Homo sapiens: one gene and its partners. The gene in region 2 interacts genetically with the main gene of each other region. Each region holds a gene or a part of one and is shown on either strand. Other genes may lie near its edges.

What was found. A genetic interaction does not mean that the proteins touch.
Region 1: changes in BOD1L1 (region 2) and DUT together harm fitness more than expected from each alone (negative genetic interaction), as found in Homo sapiens cells (one large-scale study listed by BioGRID).
Region 3: changes in BOD1L1 (region 2) and CEP63 together harm fitness more than expected from each alone (negative genetic interaction), as found in Homo sapiens cells (one large-scale study listed by BioGRID).
Region 4: changes in BOD1L1 (region 2) and MTBP together harm fitness less than expected from each alone (positive genetic interaction), as found in Homo sapiens cells (one large-scale study listed by BioGRID).

The regions. Positions count from the first base shown.
Region 1 is NC_000015.10:48,337,786-48,342,670, reverse strand, and holds part of DUT (deoxyuridine 5'-triphosphate nucleotidohydrolase, mitochondrial isoform 1 precursor), read right to left. Parts: intron 1,383-4,885; coding exon 1,308-1,382; intron 1,157-1,307; coding exon 1,086-1,156; intron 650-1,085; coding exon 593-649; 3' UTR 1-592. UniProt on the Homo sapiens protein: Catalyzes the cleavage of 2'-deoxyuridine 5'-triphosphate (dUTP) into 2'-deoxyuridine 5'-monophosphate (dUMP) and inorganic pyrophosphate and through its action efficiently prevents uracil misincorporation into DNA and at the same time provides dUMP, the substrate for de novo thymidylate biosynthesis.
Region 2 is NC_000004.12:13,616,609-13,622,196, forward strand, and holds part of BOD1L1 (biorientation of chromosomes in cell division protein 1-like 1), read right to left. Parts: intron 3,460-5,588; coding exon 3,335-3,459; intron 1-3,334. UniProt on the Homo sapiens protein: Component of the fork protection machinery required to protect stalled/damaged replication forks from uncontrolled DNA2-dependent resection.
Region 3 is NC_000003.12:134,492,414-134,497,298, reverse strand, and holds part of CEP63 (centrosomal protein of 63 kDa), read right to left. Parts: intron 2,004-4,885; coding exon of another isoform or gene 1,979-2,003; coding exon 1,935-1,978; intron 1-1,934. UniProt on the Homo sapiens protein: Required for normal spindle assembly.
Region 4 is NC_000008.11:120,458,776-120,463,660, reverse strand, and holds part of MTBP (mdm2-binding protein), read right to left. Parts: intron 4,447-4,885; coding exon 4,312-4,446; intron 2,501-4,311; coding exon 2,406-2,500; intron 1-2,405. UniProt on the Homo sapiens protein: Inhibits cell migration in vitro and suppresses the invasive behavior of tumor cells. May play a role in MDM2-dependent p53/TP53 homeostasis in unstressed cells. Inhibits autoubiquitination of MDM2, thereby enhancing MDM2 stability.

The DNA.
Region 1 (4,885 bases), on a different chromosome or scaffold from region 2:
AGTGGAAAAATAAACTGAGGATTCTTTTTCTCACCCTCATCACAAAGAATCTTAAGATTAAAAAGAAGTTTTTAGACTAGTGAAGAGAAGGGAAGAACAAGGAATACCTTTAATCTCTCCTTTTCATTTTTATTTTAGTTCAGCTTATGCAAGATTTTGTACCTTGTGAAAGAATTTGTTTACTGAATAAAAAATATTGCTTAAGATTTAAAGCAATTAAAGCAAAATAAGTTGCTGAAGGGAGATCATATGAGTTAAATACAGGCTTTTTTTTTTAATCTGTAATTGATTTACATTTGATTTTAAGAAGACACTGTTTACATCAGGTCACCACAAAGCAGATTTACATACAACCTTCAATTGCGGAAAAACAAAGTTTCTTTTTGATCCAAACACAAAGAAAAACTTCTTTGTGTTTTTTTTTAATGATCTTTTCCTTGATCATAAAAAAAAGTAAAAAATGCAGTACTTTTAGAAGGTAAAGCTAGTAAGTTTACAGAAGTGCAAAACACCAAAACACTTGAAGCAAAAACTTTTTTTTTTTTTTTAAGAAAAAGGTATGACTTCTTGTTTTCTGTTCTTGGCATAAATTTTAATTCTTTCCAGTGGAACCAAAACCTCCTGAACCCCTTTCGGTGTCATCCAAGGCCTGAAAGATAGAAAGGTAGTAAGCTTCACAGTTTTTTTTAAGAGCCTCTTTCAGTTTTCCTCTCCAGCTCCTAAGAAAAATACAGCCAGAATTCTACTCTTGCTATATCATCTTTTCAAAAGGGAGATTACAGAAAGAAAATTAAATTCTAAAAAGCTCCATAAATTAGAATACTGGATAACTTTAAAAAATTCTAATAAAATATTAGAAGTTCACAGTATGTTTAAATAACTTATTATCCAAAGTAATACTACATAATAGCTACATGAAAAACATTTAAAGAAATTCTAAAACTAGTATTTTAAATTTGCTTAAAATAAGTTTAGTCATATATACTATTTAGTTACAAACAGCATATTAAATTCTCAAGATTATATATATTTCTTCACTTAAGATGTTATATTACTTATTCTGTATCTTCCTTTGTAATACTTACTTGAACTTCTTCTATTTCTGGATAAAAAATCCGTTCGCAAATGAGCTGTGCAATTCGATCACCTTTTTTGACTTCAAAGAAAGAATAGTTTATTACTGACGTTACTGACACATTCGCCATATCCTGTCTTATTCAATGAGAATTAAAGGAGTCAATATTAATTTACACATACATGACTCTGAAAATTCACTAAAATTATGTGAATGTATATATTTAACATACCTTCAAACTTTTCTTTGCCAAAATTAAACAGTACAACACCAACATTTCCTCTATAATCTTCATCTATGACACCAGCTAGAGAAAAGAAAAGTAATATTATCTCAATTTTTGCTATTGGAATACTAGAGGTGTAAGATTATCTCAAAATCATTATCATGTAGCTCTGAGATTTGTATTCTTACAATTGAATAAGTGAATCTTGCCCTGGTACTATGTAAAGCCTCAAAACCAAGAAATGACATTACTAAAATACAAATAAAAATTTAGAAAACAGGTCCTAATTTTCCAACCTGTCACTCTTTATCAAATGGCGACCATTTCCTATTTTAAGCTGGCAGTAGCAATGGCCATCTCCAACCTACTGTCTACCCACGGCACACTTGCCAAAAAGACTAGGAGAAAATTACGATTTGGGTTTTAAAGGTTTTTCCTGGTATCAGCTTCCCGCTAATACCCAGATTGAAATACGATTGAGTCATAAATAAAAATGTCAAAAAGCCTAAAGCTCTGCAGTGGAGTAAATCAACGCTGACATTGTTAAGCAGCAGTCTTGCAAATATTAGAATATTCCATTTTTACACTAAAAATGAAGCTGTATTTTTCAGTTCATAATCTTCCTCTCCTTTTAATCTGAACCACCATCCTTTCTTAGAGCATGGTTTCTCAGAAGACTGTAGCACATAGGCTTCATGAGTACAACTTTTTTTGTGTAATTAATACTTGTTTAAGATTATGAACACAGGGGGAGAAGATCTTTGCAGGGGAGACTTGAGCCAGGTCCCTGACATAGCCCAGAGAGTTATACTTACCAGACTTGCTAGCATTTATCTTTGAGCCAATAATTTAAAATATTTCCATAAGCACAAGCACAGATAATACAGGTGCACCGGGCCTTTTCATTTTTTTATATTGATAAATAATTCACAAAGCATACAATTTATCCATTTGAAGTGTTACAATTCCACAGTTCATAGTGTATCAGAGTTGGCCAACTATCGTCACAGTCAATTATAGCACATTTACATTACCCTCCCTCCAAAAATCCCCTACCTTATTAGCAGTCACTCCCCTTCCTCCTCCCACCCCCAATTTCCTGCTATACACGTTAATTCTTTCTCCTCAGTTTGTGAAAGGCTGGATAAGACTCACGTGAATCTAACTGAAGACAGCTCCATGTCACATCTTACTTGTTATTAATACTCTACCCCAAACAAAAGCCCTGATGAAGGAAAAAATATGGAAATAAAAATAATCCTGTGTTCAGCTCAATGGGCAGTAATGCTATTTGCCCATACTCCTCATTATTTGAAAGCTGAGAAAACAGACAAAAAAACCCCAAAGCATACCCACCCCCCATTTTTTAAGAACAAGGGTAATTCCTAAGCATATCCTTTCAATTTTCTCATATAATGGGGGGAAAAAAGCAAACCCTTAGGTCCACCACGGGGAAAAATATTCAGCAAAAACAACATTTTAGATTTTCCGAATGGATTACAACATACGTTTAAATGAACCCCTGTGCTTTATGAATGAATTACTAGGGACAAGTGAATCTGAATTTAAGCACTTCTTAAAAGGTTCCTGATGCAACACTTTTACGAGAAGAGTGAGTATAAAACTGGGCAGAAAAGCAGCAAAGGCAGTTCATCTCCTGTCGGGCCTGAAGGAAACAATCCATTATTGAACTTGACCAATTCCAATACCAAACCCTGCTTTATTTCTCCACCGTCAGTTGACCATTAATTTACACCTTAATATTTATGAAAAAATTTGATATAAAGATGAAACCAGCTGTTTTCCATATTATCTATATGGAAAAAATTTTGACTGCAGGGACAATTTAAATTAGATTTAATGAAGAAATCCCTCAACATAGCATGTTGTTCCATGCTAGAAAAAATGGCCACAGTAGGCTAGAGAACTTCCATGCTGGGAGATTTTGAGGTACAAGCTAATAATTCATCTATCTTGAATGAGTTAGAGAAAGACATGGACTGACTTCTGAACTATTGTTTCTACTTTATTCAAAAATTTTTAAATAACTAAAACAATACAAATACATATAAAGTAAAAGCTTATAATATTCTCTTACCCTCCCTGAGATAGCTAATGTTACAGAAATATATCTTACATACTACTTTATTTTTTTCTTTTTATCCTTTGAGATTAATATATGTAAATGTTAGCCATTCTTTTTAGATACAAGATATGGAAATATGGGTTCTCTCTCTCCTTCTCTTTCTTTTTTTGGCAGGGTCTCACTCTTATAGCCCAGGCAGGAGTATAGTGGTATGATCACAACTCACTATAGCCTCAACCTCAAGTGATTCTCCCACCTCAGCCTCCAGGTACAAAGGCACCACCACACCTGGCTAATTTTTGTATTTCTTGTAGAGAGAAAGTATCCCTATGTTGCTCAAATAAGCCTCAAACTCCTGGGCTCAAGCAATCTGCCTGTCTCAGCCTCCCAAAGTGCTGGGATTACAGGCATGAGCCACAACGCCCAACCTGTACCATTGTTTCTATGTAACTATTCTCTTGCATAATATCAGACACAGGCTGCTTTTACATTTTGCTATAATAAATGAAGCAGCCCTTTAAGTATATCCTTGTATATGAATGCTTTTTATTTTCATCAAATAGGTTGCAAAAAAGGTGTAGCCACTCAAACTTCCATCAGCAATATTTGAGAATGCCCATTTCCAAAATCCTTGCCAATATTTGATGGCAACAATCTCTTACATTCTGGCCAATATGATGAGTACAAAATGGCTATCTCATTGCCTTACTTTTCATTCCCTGATGACTAGTGAGGCTGGATTTTTTTCCTCCCATTTGTTGGACATTTGCATGTCCTTGTCTATATTTTGTGTATGTTTTTTTCTCATTTGTTCTTTTTCATATAAGTTGCAAATATTTGCTTGTTGGCTTTATAGTATCTTCTAACATACAAAAACACTCCCTTTTTGAAAGGCCTCTGCTAACGTATCTGTAAAGCAGTCCTATCAGAACTACTCAAATGATTGGGTGTCTTGAATCCTGCAGATAGGTGATCTTTATGCTTGGGCCACGAAAATGTGAAAAACCTTTAAGTGACTAAAAGAAATTAAGAAGTTTGAAGTCAATTCAAATGTATGGCAGAAAAAAAGGCCCTCAATAGTTTTTTTTTTTGCATGAATGTTGACGGTATAAAAATTTCAGTAGTTCCAAATTCATTTACCACCCAATTGCCATTCGACCTCCAAGAAAAGCCTTCTCTGCCTACAGGATATAAGTATCAGGGATATTTCTCCTCAGAGAAAGCAGAAAGTAACTTGAAGTTATCACTGGAAAAATCATGCATTGGAACTGGCAGAGTGATTAACTGACTTCAGGCAAAAGTTTTACTGTGTCAAGAGTTTGGCATGTCATTTGTTGGAAACCTTTTTTAGTGAAAAACTATCCACACCTACCAGATGTGAATTCTGAACAGAATCCTGAATGCTCAACTTTTCCCTTTGACCCTTATTTAGAGCCTGGGATTTCTAACAACATCTCTCTTCAGAAATAAAAACTGTTGCCAACTATGATAAACTTGT
Region 2 (5,588 bases):
AGCTTCTAAGCCTCAACTGCTCTCTATGGAATGGATGAGGAGCCATCTTTCCTTACACTTTACAAATGCTATTTTTGAGTGCACTTCCATCTGGAGTGCAGGATGGATTAGTTTTTCATTTCTGGAAGCACCTTGTCGCCTTGTGAAACTATAATTCTACTTATGTGGGCCATAGAGAAAAATGAGCCAACTCAGCACAAAGTAGGTTACCTGCTTTTTAAAGATTAAAAAAAAATGCAAATCTTGCAAACACTGTTACATCTTAGAGGTGTATTTAAAATGTAGTAGGTAGAAAAGAAATAAGAAAAAGCAATCTTAAAAAAGGTTTTAGGGTACAAGTAAAAAGGTACAAAAAGGACCGGGCATGGTGGCTCACGCCTGTAATCCCAGCACTCTGGGAGGCCAAGGCGGGCAGATCACAAGGTCAGGAGATCGAGACCATCCTGGCCAACATGGTGAAACCTCATCTCTCCTAAAAATACAAAAATTAGCTGGGTGTGGTGGCACGTGCCTGTAATCCCAGCTACTTGGGAGGCTGAGGCAGGAGAATTGCTGGAATCCAGGAGGCAGAGATTGCAGTGAGCTGAGATGGCACCACTGCACTCCACCCTGGCGACAGAGCGAACTCCGTCTCAAAAAAAAAAAAAAAAATAGAAAATAGAAAAAAAAGTACCAAAAAAAAATTAAACTATCCACTCCCAAATTTTTGCTTCAGTCTCTTTCTCTGTTTGCCTATGTTCCAGCCTCTTGTTTTGCAAACAAACAAAACACTTCTGCTTTAGTCCTTTCTCACACAGAGGTCAGCTCTAATCTTACAGAAAAATGGAGTCCAGTACCAATGATCATACTGCACTTAGCGGCCATAACTGCCTCACCCAAGTGGGGAGAAGCTACAGCCCTAGGTCAACGGCAAAGCCAAAATGCCAACAGCTGGCGTTTTTCTGGTTAAAGTTACTTCCTTGTCTTCCTTTCAAATTATGTTTAGCTAAGTTCGTTATTCAGTTACCTAGGATTTTCAGATTCTGTTGTACAAATAAAAGCTTAAGTAGAATAAAATTTTCCCTCCTACTGAGTCAGCAGATCAGCTATTAAGTTGAACCATCTGAAATTACTGGTATTAGACCATTTTTGTCTTACAAAAATGGCAAGTGCAGATAGCTCAACCTAATGGAGTCAAGTGAGTATGTCTCAAAGCATACGTACAAAAAACTGTTTGAAATTATATTTATTTACAGGGGCTAGTCCACCCCTATACCTTCAGATTGAACATAACTAAATAATCTCTTTAAGGAAGCTTTAAAATGTTATTATCAGTATCATCCAAGAGAAGGCAGCTGTCTTCCCTCTTTCAAAATGTCTCCAGAAAAAGAGATTCCTCATTACTCATAGGCAAATTGCTCCAGCATTTAATCACTGACACAGCCACAAGAACCCCTGACCTCGCACCAAACATGATTTTGTGATCACAATATCTTACTGGTACAGCAATAATTTTAAGTGCTTAATTTTCACATGTGTAAGACTTAGTTCCCTTAAATAAAAGAATGACTGCTCCCTTACCTTATAGATTTTATACGCTATAAAAGTAAATGCAATTCTAAGAAGTTTGCCTTCAATCTGAGTGTCAATATATGAAGAAAAAAAATGCCAGACTCCCAAAAAAACATGCTTTTAAAGCAATGCAATCATTTGTGAACAGGGAGGTGGCTATGCAAATCACTGAATGAAAGTAATCAGTAGGGCTCTGTATAAATGTGTGTGAAGGGGTGCTCTACCCTACCTCCACTCCCTTATCCCCTAGTCCTAAGCTATTTTGGTCATTGTTCTCTTTGAAAGCCTTTGTGGAAACTACAGGCAGCGGGCCTGTCACCCAACAGATCTTTTTTGTTTCTACTTTTTCTAGAAACAGCTTTGACCTTTTCCCACCAGGTATTATTATGCAGCCTTCTAATGGCATCTTTTGATCTCACCTGGACTCTTTTACAGGTTCCTCAGACATCCTTTAAAATGTAGACAACAAAGCTATTGTGAATTTCCCTCTTCTCTTATGCACAAGGAGACACTGTCTGAGCCCCCAGGCTTCTGGTTTCTAGTATTACCTGTGGCTAAATAGGTTTGTCTTTTAGTCAGGGTGTGAATTTTGATTTGTGGGGCTTCCTGTTGGTTGAAACTATCAGACTAGATAGGCTTTCGAGAGGTTCCTATGGGACAAAAGGAAATTAAGAGGTGGCAGGTATAAAACAGATTTGTTTAACTGTTAAAAAAAAAAAAAGCTACACTTCATTCTCAAAGATGTACTTGAACATAAATACTTGTCAAGTCAGGGAGACTGGATGATCTCTAAATAACTTAGTCACCCTTTTTTTGAGGGGTATAGCAAGGGTAGAAGGCTTTCTTGTCTTTGCAAATATTTACATTCAAGAACAAGTAGTGGCCAGGTGAGGTGGCCCATGCCTATAATCCCAGCACTTTCAGAAGCCAAGGAGGGAAGATCCCTTGAGCCTAGGATTTGGAGACCAGTCTGGGCAACATAATGAGACCCTGTCTCTACAAAAAAATACAACGATAAGCTGGGCATGGTGGCAGGTGCTCAGGAGGATGACGTTGGGAGGTCTGCTTGAGCCCAGGAGATTGAGGCTGCAGCAGGCTATGATTATGCCACTGCACTCCTGCCTGGGGAACAGAATGAGACTCTTTAAAAAAAAAAAAAAAAAAAGTAGAAGACCGTAAATCTAGTTTCCTAAGGATGCTCCAAATATTCGAGTTCTTATAATTGTCATTACCTTATGTTCACTCAAAATGGCTCTGACAAGTCCAAACACTTTGAGGGGAGGTGGGGAGCTATATCATTCATAAACAGCAGTTAAAAGTCATAGTAAAATGCAAAAGACGGGGGCACTGTATTAAAAGAAGACGTGGCCTCAAATCAAGAGAGAATATTTTAATTTCAGTAATCTTTAATGTCTTTATTTGTAAAATAAGAATAATAAAGCCTGCTTGCTCTCTTAGGGTCAAGAAAATAGTTGTGAAGGCAACTGTATATATCATCTATTAATATTATATCTAGATTTTTTAGAAAGTCATACTGTTATTTCCTTCCTTCAAATATTTCCAAAGGTCTATAGGAACAATCAGACTGTTAAAATGTATAAGAACATGTGAAGTGATTAGACCCAAATCCAAAATTATGCTACATCACACGAAATAGCCACACCAAATCCAGTAAAATTGTCAACATCATTAGGTGAACAAATATGTATGTAATGCCTCCGCTTTCAGGCAAAGTAGGTTAGGACATTTAAAACCTGCCCAGAACTCTATCTCTGAGACTTACTTGAGGACTTGTTGTCTAATGTTGTTTCTTAGCTGGTTCTTATTGAGATGCGGACTCCATGTGTGAGTTGCCAAGTGATTTGCAACAAAGTTGTCAACACGCTGTCTCAGATTCTGATACGCAGGCTAGAGAGAAAAAAACGAAGGTAAGTCTTCAAGGTTATACAGTATCAATATTCACCTCTCAGAAAAGTATTTTTACCATGGGACAACAAAGTTTCACAGTTTCTGACAATTCTGCTTCAAGATAACTTACACTCATTCAAATACTACTTATTTTGTGTAAGACAAGGTGTTTGGAGATATGAGGAATATAAAGAAGAAAGATACACCTCTTATTTATAGACAAAGGACTGGAAAATAAGACACGAACAAGTGTTATTATTAGATGATTTGGAGTAAAAAAGGGAGAAGAGCTGAGGAAGCATGCCTTCACTGAAAATGTGCCATTTGAGCTGGAAAAATCAATTGCACAAGGAAGCTGGGAATGAGAATGGCTGGCTTTGCTCATACAGTCAATGTAAACAAAGAGCAAGTGGATGAGCAAACTGGAGGCCAGGAGCATTTAGTGAGCCTCCAAATTGGTGGTCCAATTTGGCTATAGAAGAGAATACAAAAAGCAGAGAAATGAGGTTAAGACAGAGAGGTTGGGGCCAGGTGCTAAAAAGCTTTGGTTACTTGTACAAGTTTGGAATTACAGGGTAGAGAATGGGAGCCCACTGCACATATGGGCAGAGTGATAGAACAGCTAAGCTTTCTGATGGTTAATCATCCTACAGTGCAAGAGTAAAGAGACACAAAATACTTTAGGAAAGCATGCAATAAACTACAGTGAGGAAGGTCTTTACTGGGGTGGCAGAAACCAGCTAATGGCATAGACCCAAGAGAAATTATTGAGGGACAACTACTTGAACTAGGCATTAAATCTGAGGTAAGGCAATGGTTCTCTACCAAGAAGGATTTCACTCTCATCCCCCAAGGGACGCTTGGCAATGTCTGGAGACATTTTAGGTTGTTACAACTGATGAGAGTGCTATTGGCATCTAGTGGGTCAAGGGCAAGGATGCTACTGAAGATCCTACAATGCATAGGACAATCCCCCGACAGCAAAGAACTATCCAGCCCCAAATGTCGACAGTGCTGAGTCTGAGAACCCTTGATGTGCTCCCTGAGGGGAACATGGAGGGGAACACATATTACATCATCTCTACCTGAAGGGGCATTGCCTGGAAGGAATATGTGACCAAGCACTCAGCACTGCACTCCATTTCTAGAGGCTGTCTCCCAACACTGATGTTCTTTCTACCTTTCTTCTATACAGCTTTTAATGTGGATGAGTTTGAGTGTCCCTGACTGATATTAAGCAAGCACTGTATAGCCTCACCTTCTGCCATTTGCCTCCTTTTAGCTTCAAAGTTTACACTCCAGTGAGAAATTCTCATATCTGCACCTACCATCCTGCAACTACCATTCCCTCTGGTTGTCCATCTGACAAACTTCTCACCTTCAGAGCTCACCCTAATCTGTGAAATCATCTTGACACCGAAGGTAGGCTTATGGGCTCTTCATCCACGCTCCTACTGTTTTCTATACATGCTACCATTCGAGCAATTCTTGCACTACATTGTATTTTCGGAAGCAAGGCATATTTATCCTCCATTGATGTGTAAGCCTCCTCCTCTATCTCTCTTACAATTTGTTTTCATATAGCCTATCACACTGCTTGGCAAATGAGCAATTAAAATATACTTGTTAGCTGAATGGGTAACTATCTCTAACACAGAATGACAAACATTTTATCCCTCTGATGCCCTTTCATCAGTTCCAATTTTCAGGCCTTTGCTGATACTTATTTCCTGTCCTACATGATCATTTCCTATGTGCCTGTCCATTTATCCAAAATCGATATGAACTAAAATTAATTCTTTTTTTTTTTTTTTTTTGGCAGAGTCTTGCTCGATTGCCCATGCTAGAGTACAGTGGTGTGATCTCGGCTCACTGGAACCTCCACCTGCCGGGTTCCAGTGATTCTAGTGCCTCAGGCTCCTGAGTAGCTGGGACTACAGGCATGCGCCACCACACCTGGCTAATTTTTGTATTTTTAGTGGAGACAAGGTCTTGCTATATTGGCCATGTTGGTCTTGAACTCCTAACCTCAAGTGATCCACCTTTCTCGGCCTCCCAAAGTGCTGGGATTACAGGTGTCAGCCACCATACCCAGCCCTAAAACTAATTCTTAATTCTTTCTCCCCAAT
Region 3 (4,885 bases), on a different chromosome or scaffold from region 2:
CCAAAACAAAAACCGACAATTGGGACCTAGTTAAACTAAAAAGTTTTTGCACGGCAAAGGAAACAATAGAGTCAAAGACAACTTGTAGAATGGGAGAAAATATTTGCAAACTATTCATTCAACAAGGGACTAAACATCCAGAATATACAAGAAAAACAACTCAACAGCAAAAAAACAAAAAACCCTATTAAAATGTGGGCAAAGGATTTGAATAGACATTTCTCTAAAGAAGACATACAAATGGCCAAAAGGTGTATGAAAAAATGGTCGACACCACTAAATCACCAGGAAAATGCAAGTGAAAACCACAATGATTCATCTCACCCCAGTTAGAATGATTATCAAAAAGACAAAATATAACAAATGCTGGGGGGGATGTGGACAAAAGGGAACTCTCATATGCTGTTGGTGAGAATGTAAAATTAGTACAGCCATTATGGAAAACTAAATGGAGTTTTCTAAAAAACTAAAAATAGAACTACCATATTGTATATAGCACCCTTAACATAAGTAACTCCATTTTAGAAAGAGATTGCATCTCACATTTCAAAAGACATCATGCCCACAGGGACCCGATGTTCACCTTATCAATAAAGACTGCACTCAATCAGATAATGACATAAACAGGCACAATATTTCACTATCAGTTATCACCAGAAGATTCTGTGGCCACAAAAAGAGCAAGACTTTACCAGCTCAAAACAGCTGTCTTGATAACAGCCTGTCTGGCTGTCACTTGTGATCAGCACCTGGCATCTGTCACCAAAGGCTCCTCCTTGCAAGAATGTTGACAACCGTCCAGATCAGGCCAGAATATTCTCTTTGTCCAGTTGTTCTCTTTGGACTAGTTCTTTAGCCCCCCCCCCCTTTTTTTTCTATCCTTTTCTCCTGTTAAATGTTACTTTGTTTGATGTGGAATGTTTACACTGCAACATTTACATATATTAATACACTATTATGTATGGTTTGCAATACTGACTGACTTGTGGAGAGGCTTGAGCCTGTATGCCCATGGCTCTGACTATTGAGTGAACTGGTAGTACTAGGGGGAAATGCCTCCTTGGGAACTCCATGTAGCTTGTGGCTTTTATGACTGAAATAGCATCAATAAAAGTTTGCTCTTGTAGAAAAGACACAAACATGTATGGACCTGGTTATGTCTGACTTTGCACCACTCACAACACATATGATTCAGAAAGCACACTATTGGGTAATCTATCCAAAGGAAAGGAAATCAGTATGTGAAAGGGATACTTGTACCCCCATGTTTATTGCAGCATTATTCACAATAACCAAGATATGGAATTGACTTGAGTGTCCAACAGCAGATTAATGGATAAAGAAAATGTCAGAAATATATCCATCATGGAATACTATTCAGCCATAAAAAAGAATGAAGCCCTGTTATTTGCAGCAACATGGATAAAACTGGTGGTCGTTAAGTGAAATAATAGGCACAGAAAGACAAATATCTCATGTTCTCATTCATATGTGGGGTCTAAAAAAGTTCACCTCATGGAGGTAGAGAGTAGAACGATGGTTACCAGAGGCTGGGAAGGGGTTGGGGGTGAAGAATGTTTGGTTAATGGGTACAAACCATACAGTTAGGTAGAAGAGTAAGCTCTAGTGTTAAATAGCACAGTAAGGTGACTACTAAGTAACTAGTATGTAACTAGTTAAGTAATTAGCACAGTCGGGTGACTAGCACAGTAAGGTTCCTTAAACTTTAAAAATTTACTATATATTTCAAAGTAGCTAGAAGAATTGAAATGTTCCCAACACAAAAAATGATAAATGCTTGAGCTGATAGGTATACTAAATACCCTTATTTGATCATTACACATTATATGTATGTATCAAAGTATCATGTGAACCCTATAAATATGTAATCATGTATTAACCAAAAAAATTAATTTTAAAAAAAGCAAACTTACCCACCATGCCCTCGATTTTGTATTCCTTCTAACAAAGCCTCCATCACCAAATCCCCTTTGTTTTGGCAACTGACAAAGAAAAAAATATCAGTCATGAGACAATTCATTTCTTCAGTTCTAACATTCTAACTTACAACTTAAGAATGTGAATGAAAGCATACATAATAATGAAAAAATGCAGCACTTCTTAAGATGACTGTAGAAGCAGTCAAAGAACATCACTTCAGGAATACTAGGAACAAACTATTTCGGACTAAAACAGAATAACTTAAAAATATCTGAATTGCGGTTGACACTCTCTCCGTGTAAATATCAAATATCTCATTGTTCTTTGCCTAATTCCTAATGTCGGGTGAGCAGGGGTGGAGGTGGGATCTCTCTAGCAGACGGATACACAAACTCCCTTAACAAAATGAGAAAGAAATGGGTTCACACATGTCAGAGGGAAAGTATAGCTTTTTAAAAATTAAAGAGATAGTATAAAAAATGCGAAGTGTACTGAGATTAAACTCTTTGGTCTATCATGGGAAAGCCTACTCACTCCTGAAGACAGGCTCATAGAGCTTCCTGCATGCAACATCCTCTCTCCACCGAAAGGCAGCCACAGGGCCCTCCCACCTCTGCACTTCATTTGCTCCCAGTGCTTAATACGTTCTTTCATAGGAGTTGCACCACACTGGAAGTGAGTTTTTTACATACTATTTTTCCTTACTAGACTATTCATCCCTCCAGGGCAGAAACCCAATTTTATTCATCTCTGCAGCTGCAGAGCTCAACGCAGCATTTCAACATGGCACGTGGCAGATTATTTTGGCTGAACTTAACTCCCCTCCCTCTTTTACCTACCCTCTCCCCCATGCAAACTGGTCACAGCTGGGGAACTACATGAAGGGTCTAGCAGAGAAAGAGGGAACGGGAGATAGAAGACTGCCATATAAACAGCAAGATACAGTTGGGTGCGGTGGCTCACGCCTGTAATCCTAGAACTTGGGAGGCCGAGGGAGGCGGATCACCTGAGGTCAGGAGTTTGAGACCAGCCTGGCCAACATGGTAAAACTCCGCCTCTACCAAAAAAAAAAAAAATTAGCTGGGCATGGTGGCATGCACCTGTAGTTCCAGCCATGGGGAGGCTGAGGTAGGAAAATCGCTTGAAGTCGGGAGGCGGAGGTTGCAGTGATCCGAGATCACACCATTGCACTACAGCCTGGGTGGCAGACAGAGATTCCATCTCAAATAAATAAATAAATAAATAAATAAATAAATAAATAAATATAAAATAAAGGGTAAGATACACCATGAAGAAAGGTGACAGTGAGAAAGGAAAGAGGACCCTTAAACTCAGTAGTGTTGATTAATATGTGTATGCTTCTCGCCTTTTATAATAAATCTTCAAAATGTTCAATGTCAAACCACTTTTCATTCCAAAATGCTTTTTCCTTAAACCCTTAAGACAATAACCAGACTGTGGTGTAGAGGTTCTGCCCCTGGGCTAATCCTCATCTAAAAATTATACTGCTGTAAGAAGTAGATTATTTTACTCAACACGTAATTCAATGTTGTACTAACAACTAGATATATAGTGATGAAAGATATGGCCCCTTTCAAGGTATTAATAGTCTAGTATGGGACAGAAAAAAATGAGCCAAAAAGGCTTTCCCAGTGTGATAAATATAGTGAGAGACATGCCCAGGGTGTTCCAGAGACACAGAGGAGAATGAGAAGACTGGAAAATAGAACCACTGCACCTTATTTGCATCTATTTTTAAAGATACTAACAAACTGAGTATTAAATTATTTGTGCACAAACGTGACAGGGAGGATTTTTTTTCTAGTTGGTTTATCCTACATATTACACCAAAATTGCAAAAATAAAAACCTAAAGAAAAAGGTTCCCATGTTTTACTCCACTTTCAAATCACAATACAGTCCAACTACAATGCAACCAAGATTCCATGTTTTGGTCCACTCTAGGAGAACTGGGAGGCAGTACACGGTCCACACCACACTAGATGGAGACCCAGGATACAGTCCTACTCTGCAACTAACTAGCTTTATATTCTCGGACTTGTTTTAACATCTGCAAAATGAGGGGCATGAACAATATTCTCTAAGGTTTCTTCCAGCTTTTTCATGGGTTCTAACAGCCAATTAAATGTCCACTGTAAGTAGCATGCTCCTGACAACCATACACGGATACTTAACTAACATGTAGGAAAGTGCTATTCTTATTGACAGTGCTATCACAGTTATTCAAAATTATCATTAGTAAAATTATACTTATTTAGGTCATGTTATTCTTAAACATTAATATATTTAGTAATATACATTAATATATTTTCTATGACTATTTAATAATATACTTAGAAGTTAAGTTACTGAATGTTCAACAGCTGCCTTGTACACATTGTCTAAATCAATCTTCACTATACTCATAAAAGACAGATACTATTACTTTGAGAAAACAGGCTTAGAGAGTTAAATAACTTGACTATGATAAACTAAAAATTATAGTCCTGGATTCAACCTAGACATTGTGGCAATCAATTGAGTCACAATCGATGTGCAACCTTTATATATTTTACAGTATTCTATATCTTAAAATATATCAGCCTATCTTTTGGCTTAATAGTGTCTTTGCAATAAAAAAAGAAATTAAACTGAAGTATGACATCACTACTGTGGCCACCAGGTGGCAGCAGCACAATAATGAAATAGTCACATAAGAAATATTGCTATTTTAGAAATCAAAATGGTCTAAGATAGAGATTCCTGTTTAAAAAAAAAAAAAAAAAGGAGGGAAGTGGACCAGTAATATCCTATGTGAGAAATAAAGTAAACTTACTAATGTGCAAAGTGTTTCTGTAATACCTTCACCATCTGCCTGGTGCCAAACACCATCAATTCTCAGGATCAGGCAAATAGTAAGGGCTGATTTTCTGTGGATGTTTGTC
Region 4 (4,885 bases), on a different chromosome or scaffold from region 2:
GGTACCCATGAAACAATGTACTCCTTAAAATAAGTTTCATTATTTCAATTCTTCCACAGTTGCTTAAATTCATCTATTAAAAAATTTAACTGTAGCAGTTAACAATTACGCCTTTCCCTAAGGATAAGTATTTTTCCAATTATTTGTTTGATTCTGAAAATATGCTAAGAAACAGTGCTACTATATAGAGCATTACTATAAACTATAAGAACAAGAAATTTATAAAAACTGTAGCTCCTAAATAAAAATTCAAAAACACTATGCTAGTGTTTCATTTCCAGCCAATAACAATTTCTTTTTATATAAAATGTTCTGTTCTTAGGTGTATTTCTAAACATGCTTATATATTTTTAAAAGAGAGTTTAAAATATGTTGAATATATTTGCAGATACATGTGATACCATTTATATTTACTTAAATACATAAAATGATACATCAGCTGACTGATTCTTAGGTTTCTTCATGCTGATGGCAGGAGAAACATTTAAACATTTTTTAAGTTTATAAATTACTTGTTTTATTTTCCACAGATTCCTAACATTTCTCCCTCCTCTCTACACCATATACCAGGAAGTCCTCTGCCTATTCTAAAAGCATAAATACAGTATTTGAGGGAAGATTTTTTTTTTCAAGTTGTAGAACTTTTCTTAACATAATGGTAGCAAAAAGTATACTGAATATTATGTAAAAACACGGCCAAACATCTAAGTGTTGGGTGGTACCATGAAAACAGTTTACAGTGCACTTTGCAAACCTTTTTAATGCAGCAACTTTTTGCAAGTGACATTTTATATGGAAACCCAATATTTAGGGTAGAACAGGTGCTGCTCTGGTTGCAGTAGGAGGGGGCCAAGAGCCATGCCCACTCAACTTATCTTTCAATCCCATTATCTGAAGAACTCAGTCCTCGACTTTCCTTGGAAGATAGTTTGAAAACCATTGGTCTAAGACAAGAATCTAATATAAGATAAAAACATCAAATAGCTTCTGACCTACAAGCTGCTAACAGATGAGGACAGAGAAAAGAAGTATTAATAATAGATTATATCTGAAAGTAACGTCTAGTTATACTGCCAGGTAGCATGCTGGCTAAATGGTTCTCAACAGTAATGTATAATGGATAAAAAATTTTTTAAACTACCTATTATGCTTTTTACTACAATGTACATTACCACTCCAACTACCCGAACCTGAATTCCTTTTCCTCTGCGAAAATGGCTCACCTCATGTTATCTCAACTAGTGACACCAGTTTCAACATAGGGAATCAACTACACTCTCTGGCCTTCTCACTTTCTCCGCATGTAATAAATAAATCATAATACCGTGTTGATTTTACATCTTTAACACATCGTGTACTTTTCCTGGCTCTCCATTCCAAATGCCACTTGTTTAGTTCGAGCTTTGCTCAGGTTTCCAAAATCCTACCAGCATGATCTAAAATTTACTTTTCATTAAGCTATGTCTGGCTTATAATCCTTGTATGATTCCTCATTATCTTTAGGATAGAATTTAACCCCAATCATGATACGTAAGGTCTTTTAGGACCTGATTAATCTGAAAAGGCTCTCCAATCTGATCACTTAGCAACTGCCCTCAACACCCCCAAGCCAAAAAACCACTACTCTTTAATGATTCTAGACTACAAACAGTTCTCAGCTGGGTAACGTTCTCCTACACCTTTGTATATGTTATCTTTTCTGCAGCAAAGAACTTTCAATAAGAAAATAATGAGTATTTTGATTTAGGCTGACATAATCCAAAGTCATTCATCTGACAATATTGAGTGCTTACTCTATGCTATGATATATTGCAGTTACAGACTTCTTCAGCAGAAACATATTGAGTAAAACACAGAAGTCATGGAGATGTATTCCTGGATTTCAGGAAAAGGGAAATTATTTCCAAAAAGCATTAAAACTATAAAAAATAATAGTAAAGTTAACAAAAGCACATAAAATATATACGTGGTGGTGTCTGGGCAGTGGGTGGGAAGGACAAAGTTGCAGTTAATGCTAGGCTAGGTGTGAGAGTAGATCAGTCCTGTGCTCAAGCAGAGAACATTATAATTGCATTAAAGAAGCAAGGCTCAATCACTTCTGTATTATTTCCATAGCCCTATCCATAGAAAAGTCTCAACAATACTGAACAAAAATAAAGATGCTTGCATAGGGAGGAAGATTTCTGATAAAATAGGTATAGGATCCAGGTGGTGGGAAAAGCAAGAACTTCCTTCCCCAGCAACTCCAAAAATAAGGAGTCCAGCAGCCTACTTGAACATCAACATTAAAACAGTGAATATAATGAAAAAGATATACCTAACATGTATATTTACCTGACAATACCAGAACATTCTACCTGACACAGAAAATGTAATCTAAAATGAACATGTAAATGAAAGGATACAACTCAAATTCAATATCCGACATATAGCAGGAGGGTAGATCTGATAATTTTATCATCTGCACAAATTCTAAAGCAGGGCCATAATAATGGAAAACCTAGAAAAGAAATTAAAATTGTGTAATATTTAAATACCATAAACAAAAGTAAACAAATTAGTGATTAAGGGTTTAAAACTTTAAAATGGATCTTAAAAAGCAACTTTTTACACATTAAGCATGCCTAGCATTTAATCCTCTATAGCAGACCAGAATTTCTTCAATTTCAATTCTACCTTTCAGGGTACAGAAACAGACATGGAGATCACTTAGTAACCAGGAAGAGCTTTCACAGGAGAAAATAAGTATGGGAAGAGGTAAGCAACAGAGGACAAGCGTTCTCAACTTTTGCTGTTTATCTTCAACGAGACAGACAGGTGATACAATAGGCTATAGTGTTGAAGAAACAAATTAGCAACCTACCTCTGCAGGTGGAATCTGCAGACTAAAAAAGTGAAAGAAAAGACACTCCAGGATGAACTTAGGCTGAGTGGTACACTGACATTTAGAAAAAAAAAATTCTAGTGAAAAGACTAAATAAATTACAGAGAGAGATAGTGAAGCCAGCATGTGCTAATTAACATAGAAAGCTCCATTCAGAAAAAATAAAATTTCGGTACTGTATTTCTTGGGTAAAGCCTAAAACCAAATTAGAGTTTGTTACTGAAGGGAGGCTATTTCAGTAGTTGGAGCCACGGTGCTTCACATGAAAGGCAAAGAAAAGAGCACACTTCTTGAAGAGGTTACACAAAGTTTTAGACTTGTAAAAAGCAGAGTAATTTCACCATACATGATTAAGTGTATATATATCTATAATCATAAACATATGTGTTTATACAGTGTGTGTGTCTATACATATACAGAGAGAGAATATGAATTTTACATTATTGAAGAAGTTGTACCCTAAGATTCTCTTCAACAGTAGCAAAAATTTGGACACATTATTCATACTTGAAGAAAAGTTGAGGTCATGAATCTTACGATTCTAATTTTTAGAAAAGAATTTAATATTCCTGTGAAAGATGGCCATAGTAAGTTACTTAAAGTAAGCAATTCTAAACAAATATTGAGAAATGAGTTCAAATCAAATGATACCCTCTTTTTGTACCACCCTTTGATTAGAAAATATTAACCATCAATTTGACATCCTTTAACTTCATGCCCACTGTTTTCCATGTTCTTAAATTAGTTCTTTTAAAGTGAATTCTAAGGTACCTTCATATAAATATCTCTTCTTAGGTTATTTTTCCAATGTTAAAAAGCCAACTAAGCCTTTTCCTAGTTATTATATTTTATAATTACTTGCATTTTAAGAATAAATGTATAGGAGATACAGGGCAAGAACTGATACTTCTTACACTATAAGTTAAGCATATGTCAGGTACTATGTCACATATTAAACTCTCACCTCATTTAATCCTCATAACTTTGTAAGATAAGTGTGTTACTATTGCCTCCACTTCACAAATGAGTTAATCAATCTACCCAAGGTTATAAACAACTTATAGGTGACACAGTTAGGTTCCAAACCCAGGTTTACCTAACATCAAAACATATCCTCTTTTCTCTATGTCATATTCTCTCCAAACTGAGTCTTAGAAAGGTCACATAGTAAAGTCCAAACCAAAGGTGGTTTCAGGACTATACACATTTAGTAGCATTACATTTTTTTAAACATCTAAAACAATGACACTTTCACCAAAATTTAATGTTGATGACATAGTATAACTTAAGTACTTAATTATATTAAAAATTATGCTAGTGAGCACACTTAAGCACATATATTAGTAATATTAAGTCAAGATTCAAACATATTTTATAGGAACAAAAATACACATGAATGATCACACAAAAAAATTAAACACGATTACCTTTGGCAAAATATTCTTATCCTTTGATGGTATGATCTTTTTGGCAAGGAAGTCAGTATTTAAATTAGAAGTACTAAAATTCTTAAGTGTGACTCCCTTTAAACAAAATTCAGGAAAACTAATTTCAAATCCAAACTGAAAAGAGACCAAGAAAACACAGTTACAAGTATCATGAATAATGCTATAAAGATTAATACATCTTATTACAATGTAAAAGTTGAGGGGAAATCCATGTATAAATTTATTTTTGATTCCTCAGCTCAAAAGTGTGCTTCTCACATTTAGGTACACATCCTGTTTTAACTTAGACATCAATTTTTCAGGTTTTCATGAAAAGCTCTCGTTGGTCCTTCACCAGCTGGCAAGAGTATGTTAAGCTCATTCTATGCAGCCACAGGACCAAACAACCTCTTTTGCATTGTTCAATATCTGGCTTCCTACCAGTCTGTAAGTTATGCAAAGACAGAAGCTGTCTGTCTTGTTCCTTTTTTTTTTTTTTTTTGGCTTTGAGATGGAGTTTCACTCTTGTGGCCCAGGCTGGAGTGCAGTGGCGCAATCTTGCCTAACTGCAATC